Regions from separate parts of the Homo sapiens genome. Here region 1 is linked to region 2. The links come from fine-mapping of genetic effects on gene expression. Tissue or cell type: whole blood. Region 2 holds a variant in brackets; the other region holds the start of a gene. All regions are shown on one strand. Distances are from middle to middle.

Region 1 (2,765 bases), 59 kb before region 2:
CTTGGAGTAACTTGGATTTCTCAGAGGACTGCCACTCAACCAGCTTGTCACAGGTTTACAGTATTACAAGCACGGCAGATGCAGTACAATTTCTACAGTCCCTAAACTTGCCTCATGCACATGTTAGCAAGAAAACTACTGATAGAAGTACAAGCCTAGCTCACATGGGTTTCCCTAAAGAAGGCACACAGTATTATATATTTTTTTTCTGCACAGAAGTCTGACAGCTGGTGAATCATTTGTAAATAAATTGATAGTTTGTTTCACTGGGTTTTCTGTCATTGTTGACTCATGACCTAGTAAGGATTTACTGGACTATAAGAATAATGATTCAAATAAGCACATGGGTATCATATTTTCTGTAGAAAGTAAAGAGCTTTGAATATCCCATGCTGAAAAAAAAAAAAGCCTGAACTTTAATTTTTAAGGAAACAGTGACTTTCCTTCAAATTATAAAAATAATTTTTGAGTATTCTTGACAGAAAGAAAATTTACCTACTTATCAGCCCACTTTCACTATCTCAAATAAAAAAATGTAGGGAAGAGAAAGAAAACGAGAGAGGAAAGGCAAGAAGCAGCTTAGAGGCTTAGAGGCAGAGAAAGAGTGAAACAGAAGGAAAAAAAGATACAGAAACAGAAAATCAGACTCTTAGGTAACATGATGAATCCCCTTCACTTTGCAAACCCTCTTTCCATCTATTTTCAAACAATGTCAACAGTATATTTTCTTTTCTTGATATTATGCATCAGCCACCCCCCACCTTTTTTCATAACTGGTCACATGTGCCAATGATTTTAATCGTCAACTAAATCTATATATCAGAAAATCATCCTAAAATTCCAAATTTAGATTCACTTTTATGCTTCAAGGTTGTTTACAAATAGTTGTTCTAATTTCCTGATAAACAAAGGTGAAAGGACTACTTAATTCAGAAAATGACTGTTTTTTGGCTTGCAAACAAATAATGATTAAATTGAATGAAGCCAGCTCTTGGTACATAAACAGCGCCAGCTGTGGTTTCTTCTGGACTGGTGTGGCTGTCAAAAGGAATCTGAATTCAAGGCAGTTGTAAAGTAAGTAAATAAATAACATCAGCAAAAGCAAATAAAAAGCAACCCCTAAAAAAACAGCGACCAAAAAATATTTTTGTTAGGACACGTTAGGTCTTCATTAAGAGGAACTTGCAAAACTTGATTATTCACTTTCTGAGTTTGAACAGAGCCTGGTCTCTGGGAAACAATCCAAGGATAAGATGAAACCTGACGCTTGCCTTATCAGACTTTGCTGGGAACACAGTTTTAAGGAAAAAGCAATGAGAAAAGTCTACTTACCAAAGTCACAAACTTCAACTCCTTGGCTAGTACACTTCGGTCTAGCCAGAAAAAAAGCAGAAACAAGAAGCCAAGGCTAAGGCTTGCTGCCCTGGCCAGGAGGAGGGGTGCAGCTCTCATGTTGAGGAGAGCTGTTTCTGGCAGGAGTTAGGAGGAACTGCTACCACTTCAAAAGCCTGTAGAGGGGAAGCTATTTAATTAAGGGATTGAAAGGGAAGGAGGAGCCACACTCATAAGTAGTAAAGTTTCCAGGAAGCGTAGGGCAGGTTTGGTATGTAAATAATGTCATGTAAATTTTGAGCTGAGAGAGATCACAGTTTCCCCATTTAAGTTAGGACACCAAGGCCAAGAGCGGGGAAAGCTGTTGATCAAGGTCACAGAGCATGTTAGCAGACATTTCTATCCTTGTTTTCAGTTTACTTTTATCTTTGTTTTTTGTTTTTTTTTTTTTGAGACAGAGTCTTGCTCTGTCATCCAGGCTGGAGCACAGTGGCACAATCTCAGCTCACTGCAAACTCCGCCTCCCAGGTTCAAGCAATTCTCCTGCTTCAGTCTTCCTGAGTAGCTGGGATTACAGGCGTGCACCACCACACCCGGCGAATTTTTGTATTTTTAGTAGAGACGGGGTTTCACCATGTTGGTTAGGCTGGTCTCCAACTCCTAACCGCATGATCCGCCTGCCTTGGCCTCCCAAAGTGCTGAGATTACAGGCATGAGCCACTGTGCCAAGCCAGTTTACTTTTATCTTTTCTTTAGATAGGGTATGATACAGCGTTGGATTTGTGGCTGTCACTTGGGAAAGGGATCTACCCTGACTTTAGAAACCTTAGACCAGTGATTCTTAATCTGTTGGGAGTCCAAAGTTATAGGACTGAAATCTGGAAGGAAATACAGGTGTTGACATATTTGGGGCCTATTTCCATGCCAAACATGGCTACTTTTTCAAAAACTCTCATGTAGCCTATAGAGGTATTTTTAAATTAAAGAAGAAAAGTAACAGCAAGTTTATTTTGAAAAATTTTAGGCTGGGCGTGGTGGCTCATGTCTGTAATCCCAGCACTTTGGGAGGCCGAGGTGGGCAGATCACTTGAGGTCAGGAGTTAAGACCAGCCTGGCCAGCATGGTGAAACCCCATCTCTACTAAAAATACAAAAAAAAAAAATTAGCCTGGCGTGGTGGCACATGCCTATAGTCCCAGCTACCTGGGAGGCGAGGCAGGAGAGTCACTTGAACCCAGGAGGTGGAGGTTGCAGTGAGCCGAGATTGTGCCACTGCACTCCAGCCTGAGTGACAGAGCAAGACTCCATCTCAAAACACAGCAAAACAAACAAACAACAACAAAAAACAAACAAAAGAAAAATTTTAGTCACACCTTAAGACAATTGGACATTACCTGTGGTATCTCAAAATTAGATTGGAGGTCCCTTTCCAAA
Region 2 (2,765 bases):
TACTTTTGCTGGGTTTATTCTGTTTCTCTTTTCTTAACTTCTTAAGTGGGATGCTCTGTCTGCCAAGGTCCTGGCAAGAAATAGATGGCATAGTCAAAGGAAGACTTAAGAGAGTGTAAGGAGGAGAGTATTTACATAAATGTGTCAGGGTTAAAGAAACCAATAAGAGATGAGTTACCCAGAACTAGCAACAGTAGTAAGCCTCATTACTCAGTTGTGAGGGGGAAGGTAGACTCTTTCCAGACCTTTGATAAAGGGGCTGCTCAAAAAAGCCACGACCTTGGGCCTCTGCTAAAACCATGGCTTTAAGTAAGGAGGGAGCAGATATATAAAAATCCTTATCCCTCTTTCTAATCTCTTATGTCCTGTGAGTGTCACCCATTGAGTAAACCCAAGTGGAAGTCAGCAGGAAAGTAGCTGGGATGATGCAGTCTTTACAGGTAAGCCTTTTGGAAGCACAGAACAATGGACAGAAGGGCAACTAATAGATCTACAGGGGTGCCCTGAAAGTGATCAGCAGAGAGACTTAGCTATTGATTTCAATCTCTCCCGTCCTCTCATTGGTATATTTAAGGTTATATATTTCCTTTTAAGTACTATTTTAGCTGCATTTCATAAATTATAAAATGAGGTAGTCCATTATTATTCATTGCCGAATATATTGTAAGTCCTATTAAGATTTCTTCTATAACCCATGAAGTATTTAGATGTATGTTTATTTCCATACATAAGCGGTTTTGTGTGTTTGGTATTTATTTCTAACTTAACCACATTGTGATCTGAGCTAGTGTGTCTGACACTAATTCCTGGGAAGTTTTTGAGACTTTATTTCCAGTCCAGTACATAACGATTCTCTCTGTGTTTGAAAAGATTGGGTGTTTTGGTTGTAGTATTCTGTGTATGTCAGTTAGTCCTCAATAGATCAAGCTTCTTATGATTTATTCAGATTTTCTATGTCTTTACTGATTTTTGTCTTGATCTGTCAATTACAGAGATAGGTGTATTGAAAACTGTCATTATGATATATTTTTTCATTTCTCTTGTTTTCTGTCAACCTTTGCTAATACATTTGAAAAATATTTTATTAGAAAGAATTTAGTCAGTATTTCTTCCTGGAGAATGCATCTCTTTAAAATATGTGCCGACCATCTTATCTTTTGTTTTTCTTTCTGTCTAAAAGTCTATCTTGATGGACAATAATGTAGCTCTACTAGCTTTATTTTGGTTAATATAATAGTGACATTTCTTTTCATCTTGGCTCTTTCATCTGGAATCACTTTTCTTCTGTAGGATGAACATTCATTACAAATTTCTTTAGTGAGAATCTGTTGGTCCATCTGTTAGGCATTTGAAAATGTCTTTACTTGTTCCTGTTTTTCAAAAATGTCTTTCTTTAACATGTAATTCTGAGTGAACATTTATTCCTCAAGGGAATTATTTTCCTCTTTACTCATTTCCAAGTTTTAAAGTGCAATTTTCCTTGCAATTTCTGGGAGTTTGGATAGG[G/C]GGATCACTGAGGGCTAAGTGTAGGTTGAACCATGGAAAATTGTTTTTCATAAGTCAAAAATAATCAAATATTGGCAATTTCTTATGGCTTAACCTTAATTGTCTACCCTTATGCTCAAATTGGATACCTTTGGGAAATCCTAGCTTTAGATAGAGGTGTTTGCTATAAGATCATCCATGTTGTTTGGGCTGTGGGTTTTGTCACCTGTCCTCCATATTCTATGAGGCCATGGAAACAGAAAATCAGTAACTTGACCAGGCAAATGACTTCAAGGTAAGAGCCAACTTTAATATTCAGTTTACTTCTTCTCGTTTTTATTTTGGCCTCTAACTATTCCTTGGTTTCTTGCAAGCTTATCAATATACTTAAAAGATATTTTGAATATTTTAGTGGCATCATTTAGTTTTCAGTGGGAGTGGTAATGGATGCAGTCTGCCATACTGCCAAAAAAAGAAGTGCTTCTCTTTGTCCTTTCTTCTCATACATTTTAAAATTGAGGTATATTCCACACAGCATAACATTCACTCATTTATTTATTTATTTATTTATTTATTTATTTATTTATTTATTTTGAGATGGAGTCTCGCTCTGTCACCCAGGCTGGAGTGCAGTGGTGCAATCTCGGCTCACTGCAACCTCTGCCTTCCGGGTCCAAGCGATTCTTCTGCCTCAGCCTCCCGAGTAGCTGGGACTACAGGTGCGCACCACCATGCCTGGCTAATTTTTGTTATTTTTAGTAGAGATGGGGGTTTCACTATGTTGGCCAGGCTGGTCTTGAACTCCTGACCTTGTAACCCACCTGCCTCAGCTTCCCAAAGTGCTGGGATTACAGGCGTGAGCCACCGCACCCAGCCACATTGACTGTTTTAAAGTATGCGATCCAGTGCTTTTTAGTGTATGCACAAAGTTACGTAAACATCACCATTATCTGAATGGAAAACAGTTTATCATCACCAGAAGAAACTGTACTTGTTAGCAATCACTCTCTATTTCCCCTTCCCCCAGTTCTTGGTAACCACTAGTTTACTTTCTGTTTTTATAGATTTGTCTATTCTGGACATTTAATATTAGTGGAACCACACAATACGTTGGTCTTTTGTCACTGGCTTCTTTTATTTAACATCATGTTTTCACAGTTCATCCGTGTTGTAGCATATATCATTAATCCATCCATTTTAATGGCTGGATAATATCCATTGTATGGAGACACCACATTTTGTGTATCCATTCCTCAGTTGATGGACATTTGGGTTTTTTC

What was found. PIP is the estimated chance that this variant, and not a neighbour inherited with it, causes the effect.
Region 1: ACP3 starts here. The variant in region 2 is fine-mapped to the expression of ACP3 in whole blood (INTERVAL, PIP above 0.99).

What each region holds. Positions count from the first base shown.
Region 1 is chr3:132,316,144-132,318,908 of GRCh38, reverse strand. ACP3 (acid phosphatase 3) reads right to left here and starts at 1,502. Exons shown (of 10, transcript NM_001099.5): 1 at 1,333-1,502. The coding sequence starts at 1,452.
Region 2 is chr3:132,257,459-132,260,223 of GRCh38, reverse strand. No RefSeq gene overlaps it. Among named protein-coding and RNA genes, the nearest start is that of TRC-GCA9-1, 27 kb to the right of the region's middle. The variant G/C (reference allele first, on the strand shown) is at 1,507.